Linked DNA regions of Homo sapiens: region 1 is linked to region 2. Evidence: fine-mapped expression QTL. A gene starts in region 2. The other region holds a variant in brackets. All regions are shown on one strand. Distances are from middle to middle. Region 1 overlaps GRIN2D (glutamate ionotropic receptor NMDA type subunit 2D). Region 2 holds the start of GRIN2D (glutamate ionotropic receptor NMDA type subunit 2D).

What was found.
Region 1: its variant is fine-mapped to the expression of GRIN2D in visceral fat (GTEx, PIP 0.92).

What each region holds. Positions count from the first base shown.
Region 1 is chr19:48,416,169-48,424,168 of GRCh38, reverse strand. It overlaps GRIN2D (glutamate ionotropic receptor NMDA type subunit 2D), which reads right to left. Exons shown (of 14, transcript NM_000836.4): 9 at 4,810-4,935; 10 at 4,355-4,584; 11 at 2,224-2,384. Among named protein-coding and RNA genes, the nearest start is that of GRWD1, 26 kb to the left of the region's middle. RefSeq lists enhancers at 4,446-4,685, 4,746-4,985, 4,736-5,502. The variant G/T (reference allele first, on the strand shown) is at 4,325.
Region 2 is chr19:48,390,617-48,398,616 of GRCh38, reverse strand. It overlaps GRIN2D (glutamate ionotropic receptor NMDA type subunit 2D), which reads right to left and starts at 4,949. Exons shown (of 14, transcript NM_000836.4): 1 at 4,749-4,949; 2 at 3,681-3,959; 3 at 1-250. The coding sequence starts at 224. KDELR1 (KDEL endoplasmic reticulum protein retention receptor 1) reads left to right here and starts at 7,066. Exons shown (of 5, transcript NM_006801.3): 1 at 7,066-7,349. The coding sequence starts at 7,259. RefSeq lists silencers at 23-122, 2,378-2,561, 6,910-7,229.

The DNA.
Region 1 (8,000 bases), 26 kb before region 2:
TTTAGGATTACAGGTGTGAGCCACTGCATTGGGCATTAGAAATTTTTTTAAGCCAGGCATGGTGGCTCACGCCTCTAATCCCAGCACTTTGGGAGGCTGAGGCAGGCAGATCACCTCATGTCAGGAGTTCAAGACCAGCCTGACCAACATGGTGAAACCTCATCTCTACCAAAAATACAAAAATTAGCCAGGCATAGTAGTGCACGCCTGTAATCCCAGCTACTCAGGAGGCTGAGGTGGGAGAATTGCTTGAACCCAGGGAAGGCGGAGGTTGCAGTGAGCTGAGATCGAACTACTGCACTCCAGCCTGGGCAACAGAGTGAGATCCTGTCTCAAAACAAACAAAAACAGAAATCAGATCATACCCTTCCTTACGTAAAATCTCCACACCTCAAGGCTTCTCACCGCCTTTAGCATAAAGTCCAGCCCTGACCTTGGCCTCATGCCCAGAATCCTCCCCTCATCTACTCTCTCACCTCAGCTCCTTGCCCTTCAACCACACTGGCCTTCTTGCTGTTCCTCCAGTAAACCAACACTGCACCTTCCTCAGGCCCTTTGCACACTCTGTTCCCTCCGTCTGAAGGCTCTGCTTCCGGAAGTCCACCTGGCTAGCTCTTTCACCTCCTGCAGGGCTCTGCACAAATGTCACCTCCTCCGAGAAGCCCACCCTGAACACCCTGGTGAAAATATCCCAGCCCTGCCGCCCTCTAGCTCACCATCACTTTCTGAAGAGATCTTGATTTTTCTGTTTGCATGTTTATTGTTCATTTCCCACCTCTAGACCTAGGAATCGGGTCTATTTGTTCACCGCTTAGCGTACAGCAGAGGATAAGAAAAATGCACACGGAAGGACTGAGTAAATGCAGGACGGGGAGAGAGTTACTGTGCTCAGCCTTGTTGTATTCGTGGGCTGCACTTTGGGGCCTGAACTCAACTTTTTTTGTATTGTTTTCTTTTTGAGACGGAGTCTGTCTCTGTTGCCCAGGCTGGAGTGCAATGGCACAGTCTCGGCTCACTGCAACCTCCGCCTCCTGCATTCAAGCGATCCTCCTGCCTCAGCCTCCCAAGCAGCTGAGATTACAGGCGCCCGCCACCACGCCCGGCTAATTTTTGTATTTTAAGTAGAGACAAGGTTTCATCATGTTGGCCAGGCTGTTCTCAAACTCCTGACCTCAAATGATCTGCCCGTCTCGGCCTCCCAAGAGCCTGTTGCCGCACCCAGCCTAATTTTTGTATTTTAAGTAGAGATGGGGTTTCACTATGTTGGCCAGGTGGTCTCCAACTCCTGACCTGAAGTGATCTGCCCGTCTCCGCCTCACAAAGTGCTGGGATTATAGGCGTGAGCTACTGCGCCTGGCCTCTGAATTTAACTTCATCCCTATGATTTGGGAAAGGGATGTAAAAAGATAAGAAACACAATCTAAGCATTGATTCCAGTGAGTTCAGGTCTAATGATAATGATAATATCAGCAAACACCTATAGTGCACCGGGCACTGTTCTAAATAAATAAATAAATGTTCTGAGTGGACTAACTAGTTTAATTCTTTTTTTTTTTTTTGAGACGGAGTCTCGCTCTGTCGCCAGGCTGGAGTGCAGTGGCATGATCTCGGCTCACTGCAACCTCCGACTCCCAGGTTCAAGCGATTCTCCTGCCTCAGCCTCCCAAGTATCTGGGACTACAGGCGCGTGCCACCACGCCCAGCTAATTTTTGTATTTTTTGTAGAGACCAGGTTTCACCATGTTGGCCAGGATGGTCTCGATCTCCTGACCTTGTGATCCGCCTGCCTTGGCCTCTGAAAGTGCTGGGATTACAGGCATGAGCCACCGTGCCCGGCTTACTAGTATAATTCTTGTAACAACCTTATGATCATTACAGTGGGGATACTCTTGTTATCCTCATTTTACAGAGGAGGAAACAGAGGTTCAGAGAGGCTGAGTAACTTGCCCAAGGTCACAAAGCCAAGAAGGGGAAGAGCAAAGATTTGAGCCCCATCAGTCTCACCCCAGAATCCAGAAATACTGCATCCCAGAAAATATCCCAAGGAGCCTGCTCCTGGGAGGAGGAGTCCACTTCCACCCTCAGTGACCTCCGCCCTCCAAGCTGACCCACCCAGGGCTGACCTCTGGGACTGAATGAATGAACCTGGACCCCTTGCCATCTTTGAGCATCCTCAGGTCCCCAGCGGCCCAACCCCCACCCCCGGCCCGAGTCTGCGCTGACCCTGCCTTGAGCTGAGTGAGCGCTTCCTCTACGCGGGGCTGGTTGTAGCGCACCATGTAGCTGTGCATGTCGGGATAGTTGCTGCGGATGTTCTTCTCCGTGGAGCCGTTGGGCACGGTCCCAAACTTCAGGGGCGGGTACTGCTCCTGGGGCCTCTGGAACTGGGGCAGAATGGGGAGTGATTAGGGCACCCTCCGCAGGGACATCCCTAACATAAATCACCCATTCTGAGACACACCCGCTATCTGGCAGACACCCCAGTCCCAGGAGTGTTCAATATTTCTCAACACTCGCTCACTACATTAGGGAATGCTTTTCCACTCCCACCCAGCACACACGGTTGCAGACACGTGATCCAAAAGTTCACGAGAAGCCTCCCTGAGGCCCCTGATGTGCCAGGTGTTAAGTCTTCACTTACTGAATCGCGGGAGGTCCTGGGAGTAGAGGCTGGCATGGCAGGAGCTGGGAGCTGTTGCTATTTACCAATCCGTTCAGAAATAGTTCACTTTTTTTTTTTTAAACGGAGTCTTGCTCTTGTTGCCCAGGCTGGAGTGCAATGGCACACTGTCAGCTCACTGCAACCTCCGCCTCCCAGGTTCAACTGATTCTCCTGCCTCAGCCTCCCGAGTAGCTGGGATTACAGGCACATACCACCATGCCCAGCCAGTTTTGTATTTTTAGTAGAGATGGGGTTTCTCCATGTTGGTCAGGCTGGTCTCGAACTACCAACCTCAGGTGATCCGCCCGCCTTGGCCTCCCAAAGTGCTGGGATTACAGGCATAAGCCACCGCGCCCAGACAACTAAAACAAGTTTTGTAAAACCAAACTTATACATAAGATGCAGGCAACTATTCTATTCTACTCCATTCCATTAAAAAATGCTTATTGCAACCCATCAAACTGATTTCTCAAGCCTCTAATAGGTCATGACACCCAGCTAGTTAATCACTTTAGTCTCAAAGTATGCTCTGCAAACCACCAGTCCCTCAACAAACGGTGATTGCAGTGAGATGTGTACAGGAATGGAGAGAGTGAGCATTTAGAGTGATTTGACAGAATTCTTTTTCGTCTGTTGAATCTAATAAATAAAAATGTGAGTTTGGCTTTTTTTTAGGCAGAGTCTCGCTCTGTCACCCAGGCTAGGAATCAGTTCTATTTGTGGCGTAATCATGGCTCACTGTAACCTCCGCCTCCCGGGTTCAAGCGATTCTCCTGCCTCAGCCTCCCAAGTAGCTGGGACTACAGGCACCCACTACCACGCCTGGCTAATTTTTGTATTTTTATTAGAGACGAGGTTTCACTATGTTGGCCAGGCTGGTCTCGAACTCCTGACCTCAGGTGATCCACCCACCTCGGCCTCCCAAAGTGCTGGGATTACAGGCGTGAGCCACCGTTCCTGGCCAGGTTTGACTTTTGTCTGTCTTGGTTTTAGATCTTATTTTACTTTTCTAATAATTCATTTCCGTTGAATTTTACAAAAGCATTGTCTGCAATGGACTAGCAGTTTTTTGTTTTTTTGAGACAGAGTCTAACTCTGTCGCGCTGGCTGGAGTGCAGTGGGGCGATCTCGGCTCACTGCAAGCTCTGCCTCCTGGGTTCACGCCATTCTCCTGCCTCAGCCTCCCGGGTAGCTGGGACTACAGGTGCCTGTCACCACGCCCGGCTAATTTTATGTACTTTTAGAAGAGACGGGGTTTCACCGTGTTAGCCAGGATGGTCTCGATCTCCTGACCTCGTGATCCGCCCGCCTCGGCCTCCCAACGTGCTGGGATTACAGGTGTGAGCCACCGCGCCCAGCCTTAGAAGTTTCAAAAATTAATCCTTCCTCACAGTTTGAGAGAAGCACTGGTTCTAGAATATCCTATTTGACACAACTGCCCCTAGAACATTCAGGGACACCCTCTTCCCTAGGAATATTTTAAATAGCTCATCGTGAACCGTGTTCTTTCTTCATCCACAACATTCCATTCTACCATTCTGGAATTCTCCTTGGGAAGAGACCCCTTCCCGCCCTCCCCCCACCCCTCTCACCCCCGCCCCCCGCAAGAATCCCCTCTAATCTACCACATGACAAGCTCTGTGACCTCCAGCCCCAGCCCCA[G/T]CTCCAGCCCAGCCCTGGGCCCACACACACCTTGCGGTCACTGAGCCCAGACACAGTATCCACGTACTCCTCCTGGATCATGAAGGCGGCCAGGTTGGCTGTGTAGCTGGCGAGGAAGATGACGGCGAAGAAGGCCCACACCAGCACCATGATTTTGCTGGTGGTTCCCCGGGGGTTCTCCACGGGCACCGAATTATTGAACACCAGGGCCCAGAGCAGCCAGATGGATTTCCCAATGGTGAAGGTTGAACCGCCAGGGCCTGCAGGGGGCCAGGACGTGGACATGGACCCCAAATCCCTTCTCAATAAGGAAGGGAAAAAAAAAAAAAGAAAGAACTACAATTCCCAGTGGCCCTCAAGGCATCTGGCACCTCCCGAGAGGCCCTAGCTTGACCGCCCCCCCTCCAGGGGCTGCTGGGAAATGTAGTTCTCTGTCTCTGTGGTTCGGGATCTCCGAGGCGGGGGATGGAGGAAGGGGGACTCACGCTTGCCCGTGGCCAGGCTGCGGTTGTAACCAACAGGACTGAGGTACTCGAAGATGAAAACAGTGACGGCGACCACAGTGAGGCACATGACGAACATCATCACCCACACGGCGGGGCTGTAGGGCTCTGGGGACAAGGGAGTGCGTGGTTATGGCTCAGCCAAGCAAAAGACTCGGGGATCAGGCTGGGGCGGTGCCTCACGCCTGTACTCCCAGAACTTTGGGAGGCTGAGGCAGGAGGATCACTTGACGCCTGGAGTTCAAGACCAGACTGGCCTTGAACTCCCTGTCTCTACAAAAAAAAAAAAGGAAGAAAAAAGAAAGAAAAAAAACCCTAGGGTACTACCAGCAGGGAACAAGGTGCAGCCCAGATCTGACCCCATCCTATTCTGGCCCTATCTCTGCTTCTCCATCTCCAAGATAGTCTTATGGCACACCCATACCCCTAGGAGGCAGCCATTCTCAAAGAGAGCCGTCGCAGGCATTTCTGTGGTTTCAGCCACCAAATAGAAACTGTCTCCTAAATGTTTCCTGAGTCACAGGCCCAAGCCTCCACCTACCCCAGCCATCTCCTCAGGCCATTCATCATGTCCCATGCTGAGCCCAGACCAGCTCCCACGCTCCTCATGATGGGAGCCCCACCATCCACCCAGTCACAGGCCCAAACCTCATTTGCCGTCCTCCCTTCCTCCCTCCTTCTCCCTCGCTGGCCACAGCCTGTCAGTATCCAGCCCCACGCTCCTGCCCCTGATGCTACTTGGGCCTCTCCTCTCCATTCTCATGGCCAACAGGGCTCAGGCCTCATCTCCTCCCACCAACCATTTCCCCAGCCTCCTGAGCTCCTGTCTGTCCCCTACAGCCTATCCCCCACACAGCACAGAGAGGACCTGGCCCCTCCCCTGCTTACAGCCCTCCCCAGGCTCCCTAGCACCCCCAGGACAAAGTCCCTGCCACTCAGCCTTGTCACACTCTCCTTTCTGTCCTGATCACTCTCTCAAGCACCCATGCTTTACTCAAAACTCACAGGTGGCTGGGTGTGGTGGTTCACGCCTGTAATCCCAGTACTTTGGGAGGCCGAGGTGGGAGGATCACCTAAGGTCAGGAGTTCAAGACCAGCCTGGCCAACATGGTGAAACCCCATCTCTACTAAAAATACAAAATTAGCTGGGTGTCGTGGTGGGCGCCTGTAGTCCCAACTACTCAGTAGGCTGAGGCAGGAGAATTGCTTGAACCCAGGAGGTGGAGGTTGCAGTGAGCTGAGATCGTGCCACTGCACTCCAGCCTGGGTGACAGAGCAAGACTCTGTCTCAAAAAAAAAAAAAAAAAAGAACTCGCAGGTGCCTGAATCAGCGACACCCTCTCTTCCTTGTCTCCTAGGTGTCCCTGCTAGAGTTAACACCCTGCCCTGTCCATTAGACAACCTCCCATTCATGTGTCCCCTCCTCACATTCGATAACTGTGTTTAGCCCCTGGGAGCTCACCAACAATAAACCCAAATCACCATTTCATTGAGATTAGGACCAGGTGATTCAACTTTCCAGGGCCAAGTGTGAGCTGTCAGGACTGCCCCCGTCACAGCAAGGTCAGCACCCTGGACTGTCACTGCGGCAGCTGGGGACACGCCTGTCACCTCTGCTGGGCAACTTGGTGGGGCATAAATAGGACCTTGTCACTCCTCTGCAGTGTGCTGCCTGCAAGCAGGGGCCCCACGTGGTGCTTCTCAGTGTGCCCTGCAGAGACCTTGGTGCAAAGGGGAGGCCACAGGAGACACCACTGGGCGAAATAAACAGAAAACAAAACACAAAGGAAGGGATGGCTCTTCTTCCAGCCCCTCCCCTCTCCCAGGAGCTTTGCTCACACTTCAGAGAGCAAGTGGGAACTGACAAGCACTGTTGCCCTTGGCCGATGTACGCTTCTCCAGCTCAGCAATGGTCCCTCTACCCAATCCATCTCAAAGCCACCAGCCCATCTGGTGGGCAGCTCTCTAACCACACCCTGCATCTGTCTGCTGTCACCTTCCTATTGCACACCCCCACTCTGTCTCTGGCATAAACCTTGCAGTAGCATCCCCACCAGCCACTTGCTTCCACAGAGTGGGATTTTTTTCTTTGTTCTTTTTTAGAGATAGGGTCTGGCTCTGTCATCCAGGCTGGAGTGCGGTGGTGCCATCTTGGCTCACTGCAACCTCTGCCTCCTGGGTTCAAGCCATCCTTACACCTCAGCCTCCGGAGTAGCTGGGATTACACAGAGCTGGATATTTTAAAAACTTAAATCTGATTATATATCCCCACACCATCTTCTGTAGTTAAAACCCTTGTCCGGGTGCAGTGGCTCACGCCTGTAATTCCAGCATTTTGGGAGGCTGAGGTGGGCAGATCACCTGAGGTCAGGAGTTTGAGATTAGGCTGGCCACCATGGTGAAACCCCGTCTCTACTAAAAATACAAAAATTGGCCAGGCGTGGTGGTGCATGCCTGTGATCCCAGTTACTTGGCAGGCTGAGGCAGGAGAATCGCTTAAACCTGAGAGGCAGGTTGAGGTTGCAGTGAGCCGAGATGGTGCCACTGCATTCCAGCCTGGGCGACAGAGTGAGACTCTGTCTGAAAAAAAAAAAAAGAGAGAGAGAGAGAGAAGTAGAAGCTTATCTTCTGCCTCCTTCACAAGGCTGAGAGATCCTACTGGACAGGGATTTGTGTCTTCCTCATTTGCCACTGTGTTCCCAGTGTGGAGCCCACCACCTGGCACATAGTAGATGCTCAGTAAACACTGATGGTGACTTAAGTGCTTACAAGGTATTGGTACCATGCTAATTTGTTCTCTTCATCTCATACCTAGTACAGGAAAACACTTGGGTTTTGTGGGGCCTGAAGCTTGCACAATTTGGAGGGCTCTCTTTGAGAAAAAATAATTCAACCTTATGAATACAAAACCAGGTGCAGGGCTTGGAAGCTGCAGTGCAAGAGAAGGCTCCTGAGCTCAAGCTTCTTTAGCCTCTTGATGAAATGTCTTCTGGGTAGGGAAATTATTTCTTCCATCTTGTAGATTAGGAAACTGAGGTTCAGAAATGATGTCACTTCACCGAAGTTGCACAGCGGGTTCAAGTACCGATGATACCGGGAACCCAGGTTTTCTGATCCCAGGGCCCACACGGTTGGGGACGGCTACTTTGCCTAGGGCTAGCTCCCTGTCCCAG
Region 2 (8,000 bases):
GCCGCCACGGCCGGGCCCAGGCGTGCCGCCTCGGCCGCGTACGCGGGCCCCGAGAACACGAGCGCCACGTTGAGCGGCCGCGCCCCGCCGAGGCCGCCGCCGGGCCCACCGGCCCCGCCCGGCCCCGGCGCCTCCTCCGGGAACGGGCTGGCGCAGGCCAGCGCCAGCAGCAGCAGCATCTTAGCGGGGCCCCGAGGGCCGCGGGGGCCACCGGCGCCGCGCATCGCCTGCGGGCCCCGCCGGGCGGCCTCTGAGCGCCCGGGCCGGGAGAGACGGGGAGGAGAGGGAGGCACAGACGGGAGACGCAGGGACAGGGAGACGAGATAAAGAGACGCACAGAGGAGGAGATGCAGCGAGGGACAGGCGCCGAGATGGGGAGGACAGGGAGCGGTCGGGGTGATGGAACAGAGGGAGAGACAGGAACGGAGGACGAGAGAGATGGAAGGGAGAGAGACAGAGGGAGAGAGAAATGGAGGAGAGACAGAGGGAGAGACGGGCAGAGGTAGAGAGAGATGGAGGGGAGAGAGAGGGGGAGACGGAGAGAGAGAGATGGAGGAGAGACAGGCAGAGACAGAGGGAGAGACAGACACAGCAGAGGGAGGTGGAAGGGAGAGGTGGGGAAGAAACACCAGAGGAAGAGGTGAAACAGGGAGAGACGCAGAGATAGGGCGAGACAGAGATAGGAAGAAGTGGAGTATGGGATTGGGGGAGACGCAAAGACGAGGGTGGATAATGGGGTCAGGGGAAGATACAGAGGTAAGAGGGGAGAGAGAGGAAGATAGACAAGGTGGGGATGGGGACACCCACAGAGATGGGATCAAGATAGGAGCAGAGAGAGGCCCAGGGAGACGGGGAGGGAAAGAGCGGCAGGAAGAAGGAGAGAGACGGAAGCAGCAGAGACGGGGAGAAGACGGAGAGAGAGAGGACGGAGTGACAGAAACAGGAATGAGGGAGGCCCAGGGAGAGGATGATAGAGGCGGGAAGAGATGCAGGAAGGCGGGAGAGATAAGCGAGGCAAGAAAGTTGGACAGAGAAGAAGACAGCAAGGCAGGAAGAGGGAGACAGAGACCCCAAGGCCACCAAGAGACACGCGCACATAAAGGATGGGGAAACAATTGAGATTGAGGGAGGCAGGCAGAGCGGAGCGAAAACAGGAGGACAGAAATAGCGAAGCAAGGCCAAGATCGGGACCCCCACCAGGGAGGTGCCCAGTACAGACATGAAAGTAAGGCGGGGAAGGCGAGTGGCAGGAGGGAGCAGAAATAAAAGGGAGGAAAAGGGAGAGAAAAAATGAGAGGGAAAAGGGGTCAGGTGTGTGGGGAGAGAAAGAGAGAAATTAGTGGGGCACCCCAAGGAGAGAAAATCCCCACATGACCTTACTCCTCACCCTGACCACAACCCCTAACCCATTTTGTCCCCTTAGTCCTGTCCCCATCCCCTCATTCTCAAAGCAAGGGAGTCATGGCCCCATCTGGGATGTGGGGTTGGGGGGCACAGCTGTGGAGAGCTGGGTGGGGTGGGTGTGGGGGTCCCTGGCACCCAGCCCAGAGCAATTTGGTAAATTAGAGGAAATACAGCCTCTCTTCCTGTGCCCCCTGTTGAATACTAGCCGCCTGGGGTGGTTGGGCTGGGAGCCAGGCTCCTGGGTCCTGCCTGGGACTGAGGGAGGAGGGCACTGGGAGTCTGGACTCCTGGTTCCCAGAGAAGGACTGGAGTCCGCACTAGGGGCTTCCAGAAGGGGTGAGGGTCCAGACAAGGAAGGGTTCTCTCCTGGCTGTCATGCTCCTGTCTGGTTGCCATGGTAGCGCAGGCCTCGTCCACCCCACAGACAGCCAGGGCGGGGGAAAGGTCCACCACCCCTCCCCTGCCTCGAGGCCACAGCCCGTCCCCTCTGCCCACCACCTCACCTTCCCAGAGATCTCGGGCCCCTGTCTCCCCAGGGAAGGGGTTGGGGGCTCCTAGTATGCCCATCCCTCCCCGATCCTGGCTTCTCTTCGCTCCTCCTTTCCATTGCCCTTCCCCAAGCAGCTGGCTCAATCAGCGCTCAGAATAACCCCCCCACTCCGCCCCAAAATAACCCACAGCTGTGGCCTGGCCCCCGCGGGGTTAACACTCACGCTCCCCTCCATTCCCAGTGGCTGCTCACCCTCCAGCCCCTCCTCTGCCTCTCCCAGACCCACCCCTACCTGGCTTCTGCTCTTAGGGACCCCGCGTCCCACTCCCTACTGAGGCCCAGGAGGGCAGCCCCCGGCCCCACCCTTCTCACGGGGGCTGCATGCTCAGTTCCTAACCACAGGGATTAGGGAGAGCAGCCTCCCCCACTCCAGGGCCTGAGGAGGGGCATCCCCAGTCCTCCAGGACTCTGAAGGCCCAACCCCCAGAACCCACGCCCTCAGGGATCACAGAGTCCAGCCTCTGGACAACCCCCCGCTCCCCCCGCCTCCATCTCTACCTCCTCATGAGCCTCCGTTTCCACTTCCATCTGCATAGGGCTAAAGTCCCCAACACTCATCTCCTGCCCTGTCAGGGACTCAGGAGACTGAGCTCCCAGCCTGCCTTCCTCAGACGGAAGCGCTATCCCCTACCTCCTCCCGTAAAGACCCAGGAGTCCTTCTGGCAGCCCCTTCCTCCCCCAGGCCTTGGGAGTCTGGGCATTCGGTCCTGTTCTTTCCCAGGACCCAGGAGGCCAGGCCCCTCCTGCCCCAAGACTCTGGAACTCCAGTGCCCAGCCTCCTCTCCCTGCAGGAACCAAGAGTCCAGGTCCCCAGCTCCCCTCTTCCCCCAAGGACCCAGGAGTCCGGGTTCCGGCTCCTGTCCTCCCTTAAGGATCCCCTTTTGGTTTCAAACCCTATCCTTCCCAACATCCTGGGTGCCCCCCCACCGAGCTCTGGCCTCCCTAGTCACCCCACTTAGATCCTGTACATAGCACAGCCTGTCCCCAAGCGGGGAGGAGGAGGAGGGTGCCAGAAATTCCTAGGGTGTCCCTGTCTTCATTGCCCCCCACAGCATCCAACAGAGAAGAGAGGAGCGGCCACTTCGATCAACAGCTCCCCCCACAACCTCGAGTTGTGCTGCAGACGGCATCCCGTTTCCTCCCCCCTCACCTCCCAACACACACACACAACATCGGTCTCTCCCCACCCGAATCCTGATGCTTGGAAGAGGCTGGAAGGGTGTTCCAGAACCTTGAGGAAGGGGTGGGAGCTTGGGGCGAGGGGTGCTGGGGGCCTGGATGCCCTCAAGGTCCTTGGCGGGGGTATTAATAGCAGACTCATAGCTCTGACATGGGAGGGGAGAGCGAGAGGAGAGAGGGAGAGGACCGGCTCGCGATGGGGGGACTGATGCAGGGAGGGGGGTACAGGGAGAAGGTGAGATAGAGAGATGGAGGCACAGGGATATGGGGCATCAGGTATGTGGGGATGGGGAGAGGGAGCCAAGTGTCAGAGAAATGGGGGCGTGAAAGGTCTGAGGTGTAGGGACTCAGGAAAAAGGGGCTCAGAGAGGGAGAGAGAGAGGGTGGAGGAGAGTCCCTGAGGGACAGGGGAGCTAGGTGGGGGTCAAGACCCCTGCCCACCGTTCAAACCCCCTCCCTCCACGAGGCTTCTTGCCAACTTCCTCTGTCCTAGATTTGGGGGTCCACATTCCCACCACCATCCCTGCATCCCCTGTCCCCGCCTTACCTTTTCATGACCCTGTTCTGTTGGGGGGATGGCGGGGGGGCCAGGACCGGAACCCGGCGTCCAGCGACCCCAAGATTCCGAGGAGGGCTCAGAGAGCCGATGTCGGGGGGCAGGCCCCGGGGCGGCGGCAGTGGTGGTGGCGGCAGCAGCGGCAGCCCGGACCTCCTGTCTGTCCCTGGCTCCGTCTCTCCTTCCTCTTCCTTGGTCCTGTCCTGCCCTGTCTCTCCCCCAAGGTTGCGGCCACCTGGACTAGGCGAGGACGTGGCTACACATGTTGCTCTGGAAGTTGGGCCCCGGACATTGCAGAGGCTGTCGGGGTGTCCTCTTGCCGCCCCGACCCCGTGGGGATCCCCCCTCCGCCCACCCGGGGTGCCCCCCTCTGCCGCTTCAGCCCCGGCTCCTCCCCCCTTTCCATGTGTCCAGTCCCGCCTCTCCCTGGCTCACTCGCACCCCCGCTTTGTGCCCTCAGCCCCCCCACCCCCCCTTCCAGCGTCTGTGTCTATCTGTCTGTCTGGGTCACCTCTGAAGCTAGTGGCTGGTGTGTGCGTGTGAGGAGCGGGAGATTGCCTGCTTGGGGAACTGCTTGCCCCTTCCTCGCTTGGCCACCTCTAGACCCCCCCTTGACTCCCCCACTCTCAAACACAGGCAGAAACACACATACACTCACGCACACACGCACGATCTCACTTCCCTGGGATTCCCCCTCAACACCCCCAGAGCTTGAGGAGGGACACACACACAGACACACACACACAGAGTGGGGGGTCTAATGGGGGCCAGGCTGCCACTGCTGATAGGGGCTGTTTGGACAGACAGGAGGACACAGGCAGCCGGGGACGCCCAGACGCCTGGCCGGACGCAGGCAGGAGGCACAGAACCCAGGTACACACCATCCATCTGGGTTTGGGGGGGCCGGGGGGAAGGAGCGGGAGCCCCACGACACCCAGGCAGGCAGCTCAGGGTCGGTACAGACAGACAGACCCCTCCCTCCCTCCGCCGCCGCAGCGCTTACAGACACACCCCCCCTCCACCAGCCAGCCCCAGACACCCGGACACACAGATCCTCACCGGGCAGATGGCAGACGCTCGAGAGACCCCTGGGGGCCGGGCCGACCTACCCAGGCAACACCCCCAGCAGGCACCGGTGGCCGAGGGAGGCTGCGGGAGGCTGCGGGCGAGGGTGGCGGCGGCGGCCGCGGCTTGGAGGAGCTGGAGCGGGAGGGACTCACACACTCGCTGTGTTCTCGCACACACACACTCACTCGGGATGCGATTAACATTCAGTCCCCGTCTGCCACTGCCGGGAGACCCACAGCCCCCCCTCCTGGCCTCCCTGGGGACCCCTTCTCCTGCCAGGCTTGGGGAGGGGGCCGCCCCCCACCCCTAGCTACCAGCCTCTGCCTTCCTCCTGGGACAAGGGAGTGAGGGGCTGAAAATAAAAAGGGAGGAAGAAGTCAGGCTGGGGACAGGCAGGCAGGGACTCAGAACCCGGTATGGAGACACCAGCTTCAGAGCTAGACTCCAGGGCTGGGGGTTGCTGCCCTCTGCCCCCGCCCTGCCTTGAGGCTCTGGAAACAGGAGGCCTTTCCCTGACTTCAGTGTTCGCCACACTAAGACCCAAGCTGTGGCTTTTATTGCCCCAGAAGGCCAGGCCTGAAAACCAGGTCTCGACCCTGGTCCCAGGAGTCCCACCCCCCAGCCCCTCCTCCCTCAGACCCAGGAGTCCCCTTCTCTACTGGGACCCAGGAATTTGGGGACCGCCTCCAAGTCGGAGTCTCTTTTAAGGACTCAGTCATCCCGACTCTCCCCCGTACAAGCCACCCTCAGGGACCCAAGACTCGTGGATGTCACCCTTGGGCACCCCGTCCTTCCAGCCCTCTGAAGAAATCAACACGCCTGCACCCCTTCTTTTATTGAGGGACCCTGGCCTCCATCATCTGTGGGTACCCCATCATCCGGAAGGGAAGCCACGTCTGTCCCCTCATAGATGCAGGAGTCCAGACCACAGGCTGTTCCCCGGGGGTCCCACACCCAGATGCCCAGCATTCCCCTCCTGCTAGAGGGCTGGGCCCGGCACTTTTATAAAGCCACCCGTGGGGCTCTGGGGTAGAGCGTGGGGCAGGACACCGGGGCCTCTGAGGGTGGAAGAGGGTGTGTGTGTGTGGGCAGGGCAGAAACTCTGGAGCAGGGGGGAAGCCAGGGCCAGGGGCTCCTGAGGTAGTTTGGGTCAGAGTTTTGGCCTTGAGCCTCCTGGGTGAGGCTCCTGTTTCCTTCATCCTCAAGGTCTGGGAGAACAGGGTGAGGTGCACATTCCTGAAAAAGAAGAGAATCAGGGCCTAAATCTGTGGGTCGTAAAGGGAGAAACTGTAGATCTAGATTCTTAAGGTTAGGATGTTTGATCCATAAGATGGTGGGGGTGGGACCCTAAGTTCCAAGGAACAGCGTCCTAGGAGGGAAAAGGGCTGGGGCCCTGAACTCCTGGGTCTGAGGGAGGAGGGGCTGGGGCCCTGGACCCCTGGGTCTGAGGGAGGAGGGGCTGGGGCCCTGGACCCCTGGGTCTGAGGGAGGAGGGGCTGGGGCCCTGGACCCCTGGGTCTGAGGGAGGAGGGGCTGGGGATCTGGACTCCTGGGTCTGAGGGAGGAGGTGCTGGGGGTCTGGACTCCTGGGTCTGAGGGAGGAAGGGCTGGGGGCCTGGACTCCTGGATCTGGGGGAGGAGGGTCTGGGGGCCTGGAGTCCTGGGTCTGAGGGAGGAGGCTGGGGGCCTGGACTCCTGGGTCTGAGGGAGGAGGCTGGGGGCCTGGACTCCTGGGTCTGAGCGAGGAGGAGCTGGGCCTGGACTCCTGGATCTGAGGGAGGAGGGGCTGGGGGTCTGGACTTCTGGGTCTGAGGGAGGAGAGGCTGGGGGTCTGGACTCCTGGGTCTGAGGGAGGAGGGGCTGGGGACCCAGACTTCTGGGTTTGACGAACGGGCTGGGGCCTTGAGTCCTGGGTCTAGGGGAGGAAGTAGGTGGGGTATCTTTCTTGTCTTCTGGGGGATTGGAGTTAGAGTGCCTGAAAGCTGCAAAAGCTAGCAGCTGAGCCTCCGGGTCCCTGCAGGATTTTTCAAGCTCAGAGGGCAGTCTCTACATCCCTGCAAGGGCTGAGGCTGGTGTACTGGACTGCGTCTCTTCCAGAGACACAGACTGCCTGGGCGAACCGGTGCTGGATTTGGCACTTTCCGAACCCTGCGACCCTCCCAAGTTCCTATGGGGCAGCTTTGGGGGTGCGTTTAGCGCCGCCACGGCAAAGCAGGAGGTGGGCGATAGGGGGCGCCGGGGATCCAGGCCCCGCCCTCGGGGGCGGAGCCTCTCCTCCCGGACTCCTCCCCCTCTCGCTCTCCTCCCTCTTCCCGGCTCCAGCTCCGCCGCCAGCTCCAGCCTTTGCTCCCCCTCCCAAAGTCCCCTCCCCGGAGCGGAGCGCACCTAGGGTCCCTCTTCCGTCCCCCCAGCCCAGCTACCCGTTCAGACCAGCAGCCTCGGGGGGCACCCCCCCGCCAGCCTGCCTCCCTCCCGCTCAGCCCTGCCAGGGTTCCCCAGCCATGAATCTCTTCCGATTCCTGGGAGACCTCTCCCACCTCCTCGCCATCATCTTGCTACTGCTCAAAATCTGGAAGTCCCGCTCGTGCGCCGGTGAGAGGCCCACCAGGGCTGGCGAAGGAGAGAGATTGCGGGCGGGGGTTGGGGGACGTCGCAGGACTCAGGAAGGGTTTGGGGGCACTAGGGGCACAGGTTCCACCCCCACTGCTTGCTGGGGATCTCTCTTCTAGGTTCTGGGTCTCCAGGGGATCAGCTCCCTTCCCCAGACTGGCGGGGGTGCATACAGTTTCATGTGAATGGCTTTAGGCCCCCAATTCAGCCACCCCCAGCCCCAATCTGGGCAGCCCGAGGGTTCATGGACCGGGAACAGGGAACCATGGCAGGCGGGGAGGTGGCTGTGAGTTGGTGACGTGGACCGTGGCGGCCAGGAAGGGAACGGGAGGGAGGTGACCGGATCCGGGGCCTGAGGTCAGGGAAGGTCCTCCCTAGGCCTCACCTCAGGTCCAGACTGCGGGAGGACCCTGAGGGGCCAGGGGTAGCCATGAGGCCTAGTCTGGGACGGAGCCTCGGGCTGGAGTAGCTTCGGGGGCCTGGGCTGCCCCCTGGCTGTGGTCCGTGGGAAAGGGCCCTGCTCAGGCGGGGCGGGCTGGGGAGGCCTCCGGGGACAGCTGCACTCCAGAGCTGCCTCCAGGCTGGTCCCGGGCGCCCTGCCTTAGTTTATTGCCCATGCAGCCCACCCCCAGC